Regions from separate parts of the Homo sapiens genome. Here region 1 is linked to region 2. Evidence: fine-mapped expression QTL. A gene starts in region 2. The other region holds a variant in brackets. All regions are shown on one strand. Distances are from middle to middle. Region 1 overlaps LOC105377448 (a long non-coding RNA gene). Region 2 holds the start of NOCT (nocturnin).

The links. PIP is the estimated chance that this variant, and not a neighbour inherited with it, causes the effect. A credible set is the group of variants that fine-mapping cannot tell apart.
Region 1: its variant is the best candidate, but not a certain one, in a credible set for the expression of NOCT in monocytes (TOPMed, PIP 0.63).

What each region holds. Positions count from the first base shown.
Region 1 is chr4:138,927,682-138,936,010 of GRCh38, reverse strand. The region is part of intron 2 of LOC105377448 (a long non-coding RNA gene); the gene reads left to right. Among named protein-coding and RNA genes, the nearest start is that of NOCT, 84 kb to the left of the region's middle. RefSeq lists an enhancer at 2,495-3,049. The variant C/T (reference allele first, on the strand shown) is at 4,568.
Region 2 is chr4:139,011,253-139,019,581 of GRCh38, reverse strand. It overlaps NOCT (nocturnin), which reads right to left and starts at 3,801. Exons shown (of 3, transcript NM_012118.4): 1 at 3,411-3,801. The coding sequence starts at 3,600. LOC105377448 (a long non-coding RNA gene) reads left to right here and starts at 6,936. Exons shown (of 3, transcript NR_133945.1): 1 at 6,936-6,987. RefSeq lists a silencer at 3,362-3,661 and enhancers at 3,802-4,151, 4,184-5,105, 4,242-5,441.

The DNA of each region.
Region 1 (8,329 bases), 84 kb after region 2:
TCTAAGCTATAACTTGCAATCATGTTGTGCATATGCATATTATAAACTCCTTGTCTCCTATTTTTCTTTGTAATTAAATATTCTTCTGCAACACTATTTTTAATGGCTGCAAGGTGTTTTGTTATTCGGAAAATTTAAAAAACTAAGTTCCAATGGTTAAACAATCTTGTAGCTATCACTTTTGTATATTTATGATTAGTTTTTAGGATACAAATTATAAGTGGAATTTTTAGGTTAAAGGATGAGAACGTGGTTGCTCTATGTTGCAGATTACCTTCTTATCTTTTAAAGGTCAATTTGCCTTTATTTCTACTAGCAGTGCACAAACATTCCTGGATCTTCTCACTGTTGCCTTAGAAATCTTTTTATAGTGACTTCTGATGCTTTCCTTGTCTGCTTAGTAAAATGCAAACAGGTTTGTTTAACATCAGCCTTAAGATAAATGCCTTAGCACGTTAGTAAAGGAATTTTTATATTAGGTTAAAAGAAGAGCAAATAAACAATAAAAAGTAATAGTATTGCATCTCTGACTCTGCATTTATTCCAACAAGTACAGCTTATTTTTAATTACTGGTGATAAATACTTCATAGTCTACTAATAAACGTCCTGCAGTATATTTTGAAAAAGGCAATAAACGCTTTGTCAGGTGAGAATTCACTATAGTTCTTGGCCTCTAAATCTCTGTTGAAAAGAAGGATAAAACTGCCAGTTTTGCTGGTAAGAATTATTGGAAAGACTGATAAGCAAGTAAGACTTAGCAAGGTTCTGAAATAATTACTGCCATCAGGACAAAATTGGGAAAATAAACCTGCACATTCATGTAGTACTAATATTAGGTCAAGTCAGTGCTTTTTCTTTTTAAACATCAAACATAGTGCTTGGGAGATAAATGAAAAAGTTAAGAATAAATTAGTTTAGGAAGAAACCCCTGGTTGGGGTTGAATTTGCTGAATAGATTAGGGATGAACTTGTATTTTCTCTGTGGTGGGGGGAATTTGAAATACTGTTTTTAGTATAGTTAGCAAAATTGGGGCAAAAAGATTCAACTCAGAAAATATGCAGTTCTAAGTTATGATCCTTATTGGTGCTGACTTTAGAGATACTACTGGGAATCAGGAAGAAATTACTTTTTATTCATTTTGTGAAACGTTCTTACTCTTCTTATTTTCCTAGCACATATTAAAACTTTCAAAATAGAAATAGATTTTTTTTCTGATTTAGAAAAAGGTTATACACTCATTGTAAAAAAAATTACATAGCACAGAAAAGTATAAAGAAAGTAAAAATCACTAAAAGTAACACTACCCAGCAATAACTACTATCAATATTTGAGGAACATCTTTTCAGACAGCTGACACTGTTCTCTCAACAGATGCAGAATTTTATGCAAACGTGTTTGTCTTACATATATTGTTCAGTAACCTCTTTTCTTTTTTTCAGAAATATATGTTGTGGCCACATTTTGAGGTCAATATGTATAGATTACGGCATTAACCTTTTCTGTTTTTGAGATGGAGTCTCACTTTGTCACCCAGGCTGGAGTGCAGTGGTGCAAACATGGCTCACTGGAGCCTGGACCTCCCGGGGTCAAGCCATCTTCCCTTCTCATCCCCTCAAGTAACTGGGACCACAGGCGTGTGCCACCTTGCCTGGCTGTTTTCTGTTTTTTTGTAGAGATAGTTTTACCATGTTGCCCAGGCTGGTCTTGAATTCCTGAGCTCAAGAGATCTGCCTGCTTTGACCTCCCAAAGTGCTGAGATTACGAGCTTGGGGCATGCCCCTGGCCAACATCATCATTTTTAATGGTCACTTAATATTCATTGTACAGATGTGCAGTAAATGTTTTTTTCTTTTTTTTTTTTTTTGAGATGGAGTCTCGCTCTGTCGCCCAGGCTGGAGTGCAGTGGTGCGATCTCGGCTCACTGCGACCTCTGCCTCCTGGGTTCCAGCAATTCTCCTGCCTCAGCCTCCCAAGTAGCTGGGACTACAGGTGCCCACCACCACGCCCGGCTAATTTTTTGTATTTTTAGTAGAGACGGGGTTTCACCATGTTAGCCAGGATGGTCTTGATCTCCTGACCTCGTGATCTGCCCATCTTGGCCTCCCAAAGTGCTGGGATTACAGGCATGAGCCACCGTGCCCGGTCAATGTGCAGTAAATGATTTTATCTTAATGTGATTTTTTAAAACAAATTATCAGAAAGACATGCTCTGAAATGTTTTTTTCCTAAACATTGCAGAAGGCATGAAGTGAAAAGTCATCTCATTTATTCATTCTTGTCCCCAATTAATTCTACCTCCCAAAGGTAACTTTATGATCTCCCTAGGATGAGACAGGACTAGTAAAAAAAAAAAAATGTACACACATATTTTCCCAGATGCGATCATTTTATCTTCTATAATTTGCTTTAAAAAGTTTTACACTGTATTGTGTACATTTTCCAGGTCAGTGGATATAAAGTGAATTTCATGCGCATCCGTGTGAAGAGACCACCAAACAGGCTTTGTGTGAGCAATAAAGCTGTTTATTTCACCTGGGTGCAGGTGGGCTGAGTCCGAAAAGAGAGTCAGCGAAGGGAGATGGGGTGGGGCTGTTTTATAGGATTTGGGTAGGTAAAGGAAAAAGGGGGGTTGTTCTCTGGTGGGCAGGAGTGGGGGGTCACAAGGAACTCAGTGGGGGAGCTTTTGAGCCAGGATGAGCCAGGAGAAGGAATTTCACAAGACAATGTCATCAGTTAAAGCAGGAACAGGCCATTTTCACTTCTTTTGTGGTGGAATGTCATCAGTTAAGGCAGGAACTGGTCATCTGGATGTGTACGTGCAGGTCACAGGGGATATGATGGCTTAGCTTGGGCTCAGAGGCCTGACATTCCTGTCTTCTTATATTAATAAGAAAAATAAAATGAAATAGTGGTAAAGTGTTTGGACAGCGAAAATTTTGGGGGATGGTATGGAGAGATAATGGGCGATGTTTCTCAGGGCTACTTCGAGCAGGATTAGGGGTGGCGTGGGAACCTAGAGTGGGAGAGATTAAGCTGAAGGGAGATCTTGTGGTAAGGGGTGATATTGTGGGGTTGTTAGAAGAAACACTTGTCATGTAGAATTATTGGTGATGGCCTGGATACGGTTTTGTATGAATTGAAAAAGTAAATGGAATAAGAGGAGAAAAGCAGGTATTAAAGGACTAAGAATTGGGAGGACCTAGGACATATAATTAGAGTGCCTTAGGAGATTCATCATAGTCCTGCCAGCAAAAATTATTTATTTACTTCAAGAGTTAAGAGCGGTGGTTTGGGGATAACACCAGGAGATATCAGCTGTGCTGGCTTGGAGAAACAGTGTAAACTGGCAGTGTAAACAAGAGCAGGGCATGTATGAGTAGTTGAGAACGGTGAATAGAAGTAGGACTAGACAGAAGACAGTAGGGATGACAAGTTTTTGGGGCACAGTCCAAGTTGGTCTAGTGTCTGGAATGAGACTGGGGCCTAATAAAAAGGAGCTCAAGTGGGCTGTACCTTGTAGCATTCCGAGGACAGGCCTTAATTCTGAGAAGCGAAAGTGGTAAAAGTATTGTCCAGTCCTTTTTAAGTTGGTGGCTGAGCTTGGTGAGGTGTGTTTTTAAAAGACCATTAGTCTGTTCTACTTTTCCTGAAGACTGAGGACTGTAAGGGATATAAAGGTTTCACTGAATACTAACACCTGAAAAACTGCTTGGCTGATTTGACTAATAAAGGCTGATCTGTTATCAGACTGTATAGAGGTGGGAAGGCTAAACTGAGGAATTATGTCTGACAGAAGGGAAGAAATGACTGTGGTGGCCTTCTCAGACCCTGTAGGAAAGGACTCTACCTATCCAGTGTAAGTGTCTACCTAGACTAAGAGGTATTTTAGTTATCTGACTCGGGGCATGTTGAGTAAAGCTAATTTGCCAGTCCTGGGTGGGGGCAAATCCTCGAGCTTGAAGTGTAGGGAAGGGAGGGGGGCCTGAATAATCCTTGAGGAGTAGTAGAATAGCAGATGGAACACTGAGAAGTTATTTCCTTGAGGATAGATTTCCACGATGGAAAGGAAATGAGAGGTTTTAAGAGGCGGGCTAGTGACTTGTACTATAGCATAGCCTGCCTTTGCTGGTGTGTGGCGATTAGGCCTGGTGGAACTGCCATCAATAAACTAAGTGCGATCAGGGTGAGAAACAGGGAAGAAGGAAATGCGGGGAAATGGGGTGAACGTCAGGTGGATCAGAGAGATGCAGTCATGAGGGCCAGGTGTGGTATCAGGAATAATGTGGGAGGCCGGATTGAAGTCCCGGCCAGGAACAATGGTAATTGTGGAACTTAACAAAGAGTGAGTACAGCTGAAGGAGCTGGGGAGCAGAAAGTATATGCGTCAGGTATGAGGAAGAAAATAGATTTTGGAAGTTATGAGAAATGTAGAGAGTAAGTTGAGCATAGTTTGTGATTTTGAGGGCCTCTAAAAGTATTAGGGCGGCAGCAGCCGCTGCACTGAGATATGATGGCTAGGCTAAAACAGTAAGGTCAAGTTGTTTGGACAGAAAGGCTACAGGGTG[C/T]AGTCCTGGCTCTTGTGTAAGAATTCTGACCGCACTAACTGTGCCTAGGAAGGAAAGGAGTTGTTGTTTTGTAAGGGATTGAGGTTTGGGCGATTAGTCGGACACGATCAGCAGGCAGAGCACATGTGTTTTTATGAGAATTATGCCGAGATAGGTAACAGATGAGGATGAAATTTGGGCTTGACTGAAGTAATGGGGGCTGTCTGTGAAGCCTTGCGGCAGTACAGCCCAGGTAATTTGCTGAGCCTAATGGGCGTCAGGGTCAGTCCAAGTGAAAGCAAAGAGAGGCTGGGATAAAGGGTGCAGAGGAATAGTAAAGAAAGCATATTTGAGATCCAGAACAGAATAATGGGTTGTAGAGGGAGGTATTGAGGATAGGAGAGTATATGGGTTTGGCACCACGGGGTGGATAGGCAAAACAATTTGGTTGATAAGGCGCAGATCCTGAAGTAACCTGTAAGTCTTGTCTGGTTCTAGGACAGGTAAAATGGGGGAATTGTAAGGAGAGTTTATAGGCTTTAAAAGGCCATGCTGTAGCAGGTGATTGATAATAGGCTTTAATCCTTTTAAAGCATGCTGTGGGATGGGATATTGGCATTGAGCGGGGTAGGGGTGATTAGGTTTTAATGAGATGGTAAGGGGTGCATGATGGGTCACCAAGGAGGGAGTAGAGGTATCTTATACTTGTGGGTTAAAGTTGGGGGATACAAGAGGAGGACGCAAAGGAGGCTTTGGATTGGGAAGAAGGGCGGCAATGAGATGCAGCTGTAGTCCAGGAATAGTCAGGGAAGCAGATAATTTAGTTAAAGTGTCTCGGCCTAATAAGGGAACTGGGCAGGTGGGGATAACTAAAAAGGAGTGCTTAAAAGAGTGTTGTCTAAGTTGGCACCAGAGTTGGGGAGTTTTAAGAGGTTTAGAAGCCTGGCTGTCAATACCCACAACAGTTATGGAGGCAAGGGAAACCGGCCCTTGAAAATAAGGTAATGTGGAGTGAGTAGCCTCCGTATTAAGAAGGGGAAGTACTTACCCTCCACTGTGAGAGTTACCCAAAGCTCGGCGTCCGTGATGATCTAGGGGGCTTCTGAGGTGATCAGGCAGCGTCAGTCTTCAGCTGCTAAGCCAAGAAGATCTGGGAAGGAGTCAGAGAGCCTTGGGCCAGAGTTCCAGGGGCTCTGGGAGTGGCTGCCAGGTGAGTTGGACAGTCCAATTTCCAGTGGGGTCCTGCACAGATGGGAAGCGGCTTAGGAGGAATCCTGGGCTGCAGGCATTCCTTGGCCTGGTGGCCAGATTTCTGGCACTTGTAGCAAGCTACTGGGGGAGGAGGTTCTGGAGGAACGCCTGGCTGCTGCGGTTCAGGTGTTTGGAAGTTCTTGTGTGCTGGAGATGTGGCTGGGGTTTGTCTCACAGTGGAGGCAAGGAATTGCAACTGTTTTCTATTATTGTACACCTTGAAGGTGAGGCTAATTAAATCCTGTTGTGGGGTTTGAGGGCCGGAATTTAATTTTTGGAGTTTTATTTAATGTCAGGAGCAGATTGGGTAATAAAACGTATTTTGAGAATAAGACGGCCTTTTGACCTTTTAGGGTCTAGGGCTGTAAACTGTCTCAGGGTTGTTGCCAAAGGAGTCATGAACTGGGCTGGATTTTTATATTTGATGAAAAAGAGCCTAAACGCTATCTGATTTGGGATAAAGAAAAAGGAGCATTAACCTTGACTATGCCTTTAGCTCCAGCCACCTTTTTAAGAGTAAATTGCTGGGCAGGTCGGGGGGTGGCTAGTCAAATGAAACTGTAAGCCGGACCGGGTATGAGGAGGGGAGGTGATAAAAGGATTATAGGGTGGAGGAGCAGAGGCTGAGGAAGAATTGGGACCTAGCTCCGCCTGGCGAGGAGCAGCCTGGGGAGGAGGGGAGGTCAGATGGGTCTGTAGAAAAGGAAGATTAGAAAGACTCAGCGATGCTTGGGGTTGGGACTGAGGGGGGCAGGTGGGAGGGAAAGAAGGAAGATTTGGGACGAGTTGCATTGGGCACAGAGACTAGGAAGGGACCGATGTGTAAAAGAATGCCTGGACGTCAGGCACCTCAGACTGTTTGCCTACTTTACGATAAGAATTATTTAGATCTTGCAGGATGGAAAAATTCAAAGTGCCGTTTTCTGGCTATTTGGAACTACTGTCGAGTTTGTATTGGGGTCAAGTGGCAATGCAGAAGAAAATAAGATGCTTAGATTTTAGGTCAAGTGAGAGTTGAAGCGGTTTTAAGTTCTTAAGAACACAGGCTAAGGGAAAAGAAGGAGGAATGGAGGGTGGAAGGTTGCCCATAGTGAAGGAGGCAAGCCCAGAGAAAAGAGAGTAGAGACACGGGGGGAAGGGGTTCAGGGGTTCTTACCCTCCAGAAAAGTGGGAAAGGGGTCGGGGCACAGAAATACGAGGTCAGGGCATGGACATAAGGGATTGGGGTGCAGAGAATATAAGAGGTTGGGGTGCGGAAATAAGGGATCAGGGCAAAGAGATATAAGGGGTCGGGGCATGGAAATAAGGGATTGGGGCACAGAGATAAGAGGTCGGGGTGCAGAAATAAGGGATTGGGACACAGAGATATGAGGTTGGGGTACTTGCCCCTCCCCCAGAAAAGCAGGACTTGCTGCTAAGGGTGAAGGAGAAGGGGTTGGGGGTTTCTTGCCCCCCCAGAAAGGTGGAGAAGGGGTAGAGACACGGAGAGAAGGGGTTGGGGTACTTGCCCCTTCCCCAGAAAAGCGGGACTTGCCGCTAAGGGTGAAGGACCAAGGCAGGTGTCCCTGCGTGGTCTGACACCTCTGAAACCTGGGTGAATAATCAGAGAGGCGTCCCTGCAATGATTAAACACCAAGGGAAGGCTGCCTTCCCTAGTCCGTGACCGGCACCGGAGTTTTGGGTCCACAGATAAAACCTGTCTCCTTTGTCTCTGCCAGAAAATGAAAGGAATTGAAATTAAGAGAAGGGAGAGATTGAAGAGTGGAAAGGAGAAAGTGGTTGAGGGATAGTGAGAGAGGTTGGAGAAGAGAGTAAGAAGAGGCCGCTTACCTGATTTAAAATTGGTGAGATGTTTCTTGGGCTGGTTGGTCTGAGGACCTGAGGTCGTAGGTGGATCTTTCTCACCAAGCAAAGAACAGGAGGACAGAGGATTGATCTCCCAAGGGAGGTCCCCCGATCCGAGTCACGGCACCAAATTTCATGCACGTCTGTGTGAAAAGACCACCAAGCAGGATTTGTGTGAGCAATAAAGCTGTTTACTTCACCTGGGTGCAGGTGGGCTGAGTCCGAAAAGAGAGTCAGTGAAGGGAGATAGGGGTGGGGCCGTTTTATAGGATTTGGGTAGGTAAAGGAAAAAGGGGGGTTCTCTGGCGGGCAGGAGTGGGGGGTCACAAGGTACTCAGTGGGGGAGCTTTTGAGCCAGGATGAGCCAGGAGAAGGAATTTCACAAGACAATGTCATCAGTTAAAGCAGGAACAGGCCATTTTCACTTCTTTTGTGGTGGAATGTCATCAGTTAAGGCAGGAACTGGTCATCTGGATGTGTACGTGCAGGTCACAGGGGATATGATGGCTTAGCTTGGGCTCAGAGGCCTGACAGTGATCTAATTCTTTTTTAACAACTGCAAACATAGATGTACTGTGATTGATTTAACGTATACCCTATTGTCTTAGTCTGTTTGGGCTGCTATAATAAAATATTATAAACTGGATAGTCTATAAACAATATAAATGTATTTATTTATTTCCCACA
Region 2 (8,329 bases):
CTCCCCACCACAAGGCTCAGGAGTGGAGAGGAGCTTTTGGCCCCTTCAATGTCTCTCTCACATATGGGTGCCAGATGTCCAAATTTGAGGGCATAGAAGAACAATCTGGAGTTATTCTTTTTGTCATTTCATTTGGTTATGTGGAATCCAGGGCCCATCATGAATGACTCAGACTTAATAGGTCTACAGTAGGATCCAAGAATCTGCATTTTAAAAAAGCACTTCATAGGCTGGGCGCAGTGGCTCACACCTGTAATCCCAGCACTTTGGAAGGCCAAAGCAGGTGGATCACCAGAGCTGGGGAGTTTGAGACGAGCCCGGGCAACACGTTGAAATCCTGTCTCTACTAAATACAAAAATTAGCCCGGCACAGTGGCGTGTGCCTGTAGTCACAGCTGCTCAGGAGGCTGAGACAGGAGAACTGCTTGAGCCTGGGAGGTGGAGGTTGCAGTGAGCAGAGGTGGCGCCACTACACTCCATCCTGGGCAACAGTGCGAGAGAACCTTGTCTCAAAAAAAATAAAAATAAAAATTAAAATTAAAAAGCACTTAGTGCTGGGTCTGAGGCTCTTTGGAAAACAATGTCCATTTTTGCAAAGTGCCTCTTCTCTCACCCTTCCTCATCTGTGTGTGTCTCATGCCTTTCTGCATTTACTCCTGCTTTTTCCAAACAAAACGCTTTATAGTAATCTCTTCCAATCCTAACCATGCTTCAAGAGCCAGCTGAAATGCCACCCATTTCTAGAAGCCCAAAAGGGACTTCCTGCTTTCCTGCACCCTTGTGCCATTTCCAAGTCAAGAGAATAAAAGGTGTTTCATTTCATTAAACAGCCATTTCATTGTGCAAATCTCATCTCTTACTGGGCAGTAAACTCCTTAGGGACTGACTAAAGCTCATGTTTTTAACTCCCATAATAAAGCACCTACATTGTGTGAGACATTCTGTAAAGATCTGGAATGAGTGAACAAGCAATGAATGAATCAATGCAGGCATGTTTCTTCCAACAAGCTGCTGAAGCTAAAAATGCATGAACAGGAAAATTGTCTAGACTTTATAGTAACTGCCTACAAAAGTTTAAGTACCATAAAGTCCTTCAATTTCCTTATCTGTAAAACTAGGGGGTTTCAGGGGATTTCTTAAAAGAAGTTCATTAAACACTTTCTTGGGTCAAAAGCCCAACATTCCAATCTGACCTGATATTATTACTCAGATAACAGTAATTACTCAGATAACACAGCCATCTATGTTTTACACAAGCTAACAGTATTCCCATGAGGAGGTACCTACTAACCCTGCCTCTGAGACTTTGAGGGAATTTAAGATATAAGCTGGTACAGAAGACATCACCTGGTTTTCTTTTACTTTTCCTACCTCAAACCTCTAACAATGTTGTTCTTAAAATTTCCAGCAAGAAAAAAGTTATCAGGCAATATACTCATTCTGGCAGTTATTTCACAATGTACCACATTCCTACGAAATTGGGGGTGGGGGTGGGGAATCTAACTGTCAAGTTCACTCTAAGGAACAATATAGTTCAGAATCTCCAGCAACCAATTCAACATCCTAATTTTAAAATGACTAAGTTGGGCATGGTGGCTTCCACCTGCAAATCTCAACTGCTCCAGAGTCTGAGGATAACTCGAGGCCAGGAGTTTGATACTAGATTGGGAAATACCTAAATATCTGCCAACAATGCGAATAGTTTAAAGTCTTGGCTTCAATCACATTCCAGATGACCATTTTTAAAATATATACATTTTTTAAAATTTTTATTAATTTTGTTTTGAGACGGAGTTTTACTCTTGTCACCCAGGCTGGAGTGCAATGGTGCGATCTCGGCTCACTGCAACACTCCGCCTCCCAGGTTCAAGTGATTCTCCTGCCTCAGCCTCCAGAGTAGCTGGGATTACAGGCGAGTGCCACCACGCCCAAGCCCATTGGCCAGGATGGTCACGAACTCCTGACCTCGGGTGATCTACCCGCCTCCGCCTCCCACAGTGCTGGATTACAGGCGTGAGCCACCGCGCCCGGCCTATTTTTTTAAATTTTATAGGCCGGGGGGGCGGTGGCTCACGCCTGTAATCCCAGCACTTTGGGAGGCCAAAGCGGGAGGTTCACCTGAGCTAGGGAGTTCGAGGCCAGCCTGACCAACATGGAGAAACCCCATCTCTACTAAAAATACAAAAATCAGCCTGGCGCGGTGGCGCATGCCTGTAATCCCAGCTTCTCGGGAGGTTGAGGCAGGAGAATCGCTTGAACCCGGGAGGCAGAGGTTGCGGTGAGCCGAGATCGCGCCATTGCACTCCAGCCTGGGAAATAAGAGCAAAACTCCGTCTCAAAAAAAAAAAAAAAAAAAGTTATGTATTGCCTAGTTTTGAAAGAAAAAATTTATCAATTTTTAAAGTATAATTAATTTGTATGTAATTTGTGGCCATGGTAATGTGTGCCCAGGCAGAAACAGAGGTAGCAAAAAAGGAAAACTCAGGGTAGTTATTATGATGTATGAAAACAGCTCTTGGTGAAACTAAGGCCTCACTTTTACAAGATCTTAGATACACAGGACAAAAAATGATGTTAACTATAAAGAGTGGAAGCCTCCAAAAAAAAAAAATCCAAAGAAACGTAAAATGGCCGAGCGCGGTGGCTCACGCCTGTGATCCCAGCACTCTGGGAGGCTGAGGCGGGTGGATCACGAGGTCAGGAGTTCAAGACCAGCCTGGCCAAAATGGTGAAACCCCCGTCTCTACTAAATATACAAAAGTTAGCTAGGCGTGGTGACTGGCGCCTGTAATCCCAGCTACTCGGGAGGCTGAGGCAGGAGAATCGCTTGAACCCGGGAGCGGGAGGTTGCGGTAAGCCGATATCGTGCCACTGGACTCCAGCCTGGGTGACACAGTGAGACTCCATCTCAAAAAAAAAAAAAAAAAAAAAAAAAAAAAACAACGTAAAACGAATCAATGTGTTATTATCACGACTTAAAAAAAAAACTTAATATCTAGACCATGAAAGCTATATAAGCAAATAAGCATCATTTAGATTTTTTTTTCCATAAAAATTTCCGTTAAGTCGTGCAATAAAAAATGTAACCAACATAGTAACTCGCGGCCTCGGAAGGGGGAAATTTAACGGTCAAGAACAAGAAATTCTGAAAGCATGGCCTCTAAGGGTCAAGCGGGAACCTGAATACAGTCTCCCAGTTCTTACTAGCTTTGATGCAAGCCCCAGGCAAGTCGGGGAACAGGGAAAGAGGAAAAAGGGAACGCAGAAGGTTGCTCCGGTAAAGGACCCACTTTCAGGCCAGACTCCACGACCGGCAGCCCCGGGCTTCTCATTCATTCCGCGCGGTCTCCAGGTGGCGGCCGCGCGTTGGCGGCCGTGGCGTTCTCCGCCCGGAACTGGGGTGCACTCACCTGTTCGGGAACACGACCTCGCGGCGCCCGAGGCCGCCGAGGCCGCCGCCAGCAGCCGGGGGGATGCGGGCCTGGGAACAGCAGCCGGCGGGGACAACGGGCGGCGCAGCCCTGGGGCGGGCAGGCGGCGCAGGCCGGGCGCGTCCCTCTGCAGCAGGGCCGAGCAGAGCCGCCGCGGACTATGAAACATGCCGGGCGCCGCCGCCACCACGGCCCCTCGCGCGCCCGAGGAGCGGAGCCCGGCTGGGGCCGAGGGCACCGAGTCGAGCCGACTGTCCGGGCAGTGTGGGCGGATGCTCCCAGGCTCCTTCTCGCGCGGCGCAGGTTCTGGGGAAATCCCGGGCAGCAGAGCCGGAGAGGGAGGTGCAACACCGCTGCGTCGGCACCGTCTGCTGTGAGACCTGGCGAGACCTGCAGGGCGCCCGGCGAGCGCTGCGCGCTGACAAAGCGGGCGCTACCAAGCGGGAGCTGGAGGGGAATCCGCGGGACCCGGCCACTGCGCGGCCACGCCAGGCTCCCTCGACCCGGCGTAATCCTGTTTTAAAAGGAAGCGGGGCTTAGGCTGATTTATAGATAGAATCCGCAGGCGGTCTAAAATAAGAGGTATCCGTTGGAGCTGTTCTGAAGAAAAAAGCGTCCCCTTCCGCTGGCCAGCATGGAAGCGCCCACAGGCTGGGAATCCCGAGACAGTTCCAGGGCTGTGGCCCAGGGGACACGTGTCTGTCAGAGTGGCAGACGGCCTACGTGTGTGCCTGCGCGGGTCTGTGTGGATACAGCAAAAGGCGTCCGCCTCCGACCCCCTCGGCAGTGTGTGATGCGTTAAACGATATTAAGCACAATAAAGCACCGCCTGTGGGCGAGGCGACGATGATTAAAACAGCGTTCTTTTCCTCAAAAGTGTTATACTTAGGCAAAGGGAGCAGAAGGTGGCAAGGGAAGTCAGACCAGAAAGCTCTACAAGGTAGAATGAGATTATTGCCACAAGATGCCAAAGATTGGCTATAGAGATGACAACAGGCCCGGGCTCTCTAGAAGGTTCATTAGAAGGATTGGCATTTGAGTTGGCCTATGACGTGGAGGTCTAGAATTTACCCACGTGAAACTTTGGAGGGGGTGGTGGTGAGTTATAAATGAAAAAAGTAAATAAGGGTGTATTTGGGGAAACAACTCTTAGTCATGTAAGATGGAAGCTAAGGAGTAAGAGGACAGATGCGTGGATAGGTTGTAGTGTGGAAGGAAGGGGATTATAGTAGGCTTAATTCGGTGGATAGCTGCGAGCCGTTGACGTTTTGTAAGCTGAGCAAAGACATGGTCAGGGCTGTGCTTTAATTGGAAATCACATGTCTCTGGTTCATGAAAAGGCAGAAAGGAAATCAGCTGAGATAACAGATACTGTAGACCCGCACCAGGTTACTGTTACTGGAAAAGAAAGGATGGAAGAAACATCTCAGACAGGCTGGGCAGGAAATGATGACTAATCAGGAATAGAAATGGGATGAGGGGGAGGGAAAACCCAAGACTGGATTTTTCTCTGAATGATTCATGAGTTAGAAATGTATTCTATTGGTTTTCCCATGATTTTGCTGATTCCCCTGTGTTGTGGAATTGCAAGCTTTTCATCACAAGAATATTCTAAATATTTTTCAGACCTAGGTTACATATCTAACACCTGTGGATAGAGGGTGTGGACAGATCAGCTGGCACAAGTTGATTACAACTTCTGGCAGACAAGCTCCTTGGAAGTCATTAAAGCCTCAGTTTCAGTTTCCTTATCTATAAAACATAGAATCATACCTTAGTCATTAGGTGAAATAAAAAATGATAATAAGCTACTCTGGGCACACTGTCTATCGAGTAGTCCTGCTCCACAAGGAGCAGTACTTGTAAAAAGAATTTTTTTAAAAAGGTGATAATAAAATTAGCCTATGAAAAGTGTTTTGCAAATATAGCAAAATGTTGATTTTGAATCTAGGTAGTGGGTATATATGGGTATAGGGACCATGGGAAAAATGTTCCCTTTGCCCTCTGAAGTTTGCTGAAAAATCAACTCACAAAAGGCAGATTAATGGGAGAAAAGGCATATGCATTTATTAACATGTACATGGGGAGAATCACAGAGTGATTACACACCCCCAACGGGGTTCAGAAGCTTGTCTACCATCCTGGCCAACAGACTTGGGGAGAGGGGAGCAGAGGCATTCTGTTGAGGAGATGACTAGGGAAAGTGAATGGATCAGGGCACAGGGATGAACTTGCACATTATCTTGTGAAAGGGTCTGTTCAGGTGGTTACATTTTTGGTCTTACAAGGAGGGGAAGAAAAAACAATTGTTCCTTTTGGTGGGTTCGGATTGTAGCCAGATAAAGGAACTTCAACTTCATCCTGTGCTTTGGGAGAGATGGTGCTGGGCAGTGAGGTCAGAGAGACCTTGAGGCTTCCATTCAGCCGGTCAAAGCCCCATATTTTGGGCTATCAGTTTCTGAGTCCCGACACAAGTGTTCACTTACAATTATTTTTCCCCCATATATTTGGAGATTTTCATAATAAAATGTTGGGGAAAAGTGCTTTGAAAAATGAAAAAATAACTGTTCAAATATAAACTGTCACTATTTAAAGAGATTCAAAGAGCATGCTATCCTGAAAGTGCATCATATTATTTATTTTTTTTTTATTTATTTATTTGAGATGGAGTCTGTCGCTCTGTTGCCCAGGCTGGAGTACAGTGGCGTCATCTTGGCTCCCTGCAACCTCCGCCTCCCGGGTTCCAGCCATTCTCCTGCCTCAGCCTCTGGAGTAGCTCTGACTACAGGCGCACACCACCACGCCTGGCTAATTTTTGTATTTTTTAGTAGAGACAAGGTTTCATCATATTGTCCAGGCTGGTCTCAAACTCCTGACCTCAGGTGATCCCCTCGCCTCAGTCTCCCAAAGTGCTGGGATTACAGGCATGAGCCACCACGCTCGGCCTGAATCATATTTTTTATAATATATTAAACACTAAGCAATCAGAAAGATAGAAATTAAAACTTATTCCCTTGAAAATTTATTCAGTAAACATTTGTTGAATACACATTATGTGCCAGGCTCTATATTAGAGCATACAAAAATAAATTGAACAAAATCTATTGACAGTTTAGGGGGTAAGACATTGTATAAACAAAAATACTTGTAATTATCTGCTAATAAGTACAGAATCACTTATGGACAAAGTATTGTGGGACCAGAGAAGAGGAAATGTTACTGGAAAGGGGTCCCAATCCAGACCCCAAAAGAGGGTTCTTGAATATTACACAAGAAAGAATTCAGGACGAGCTCATAAAGTGAAACCAAATTTATTAGAGAAGTAAAGAAATAAAAGAATGGTTACTCCATAGGCAGAGCAGCACTGAGGGCTGCTTATGGCTTTTTCTTTTTCTTTTTTTTTTTTTTAATTGAGATGAAGTCTCGCTCTGTCACCCAGGCTGGAGTGCAACGGCACGATCTCGGCTCACTGCAACCTCCACCTCCCAGGTTCAAGTGATTCTCCTGCTGAGCCCACAGAGTAGCTGGGATTACAGATGCGTGCCACCTCACCCAGGTAATTTTTTTATTTCTATTTTTAGTAGAGATGGGGTTTCGCCATGTAGGCCAGGCTGGTCTCAAACTCATGATCTCAAGTGATCCACCTGCCTCCCAAAGTGCTGGGATTACAGGCGTGAGCCACTGCGCCCGGCCTTGTTGGCTATTTTTATGGCTATTTCTTGATTACATGCTAACTAGGGAGAGGGTTATTCGTGAATTTTCCAGGAAAGGGGCAAGGATTTCCCAGGACTGAGGATTTCTCTGCCTTTTAGACTATATAGGGTAACTTCTGGATGTTGCTGTGCCATTTATAAACTGTCACGGCACTGGTGGGAGTGTCTTTTATCATGTTAATGCATTATAATTAGCGTACAATAAACAGTGAGAACAACTAGAGGTCACCTTCATCACCATCTTGGTTGTTGTGGGTTTTGGCTGGTTTCTTTTTTTTTTTGAGATGGAGTCTCGCTCTGTCACCCAGGCTGGAGTGCAATGGCACGGTCTCGGCTCACTGTAACCTCCGCCTCCCGGGTTCCAGCAATTCTCCTGCCTCAGCCTCCCGAGTAGTTAGGCCTACAGGCGCATAGTAGTCCTACGCGCCTGGCTAAATTTGTATTTTTTTTTAGTAGAGACTGGGTTTCTCCATGTTGGCCAGGCTGGTCTTGAACTCCTGGCCTCCCGAGTAGTTAGGACTACAGGCGCGTAGTAGTCCAACACACCTGGCTAAATTTGTATTTTTTTTTAGTAGAGACTGGGTTTCTCCATGTTGGCCAGGCTGGTCTTGAACTCCTGGCCTCGTGATCCGTCTGCTGAGCCAATGCGCCCGGCCGGCTGGTTTCTTTTTCACATCCTGTTTCATCCGCTGAGTCTTTATGATCTATATCTTGTGCTGACCTCCTATCTCATCCTGTGACTAGGAATCCCTAACCTCCTGGCAATGCAGCCCAGTAGGTCTCAGCCTCTATTCAACATAGAGTTGCTCTGGCTCCAACACCTCTGACAGAAATAACTAATTGCCTAGAGAAGTCAGGAGAGGCGTTTTGAACAAAGTGACTACCAAGTGGAAAGGTATCACAGAGGATATCCACAGAGAAGAGAACACTAAGGCGAGGAAAGAAGGCGTGTTCCAGGAACAGCAAGTGCTGCAATCTGATAAGGGTTGAGTGCGGGATGTCCATAGGGAGTGGCCGCAGGTGAGGTGGAAGCTGTGGGCAAGAACCCAAGGTGACGGGTTTGAGAGGAGTTTGGACTTTCATCCTAGAGACCCAGTGAAAGGCTAAACAGACAGTTTGCATTTTTGAAGGATCATTGGATCTTTCTGCCAGCAGTGTTGAAAATGGGTAAGGACGGTGAAGATG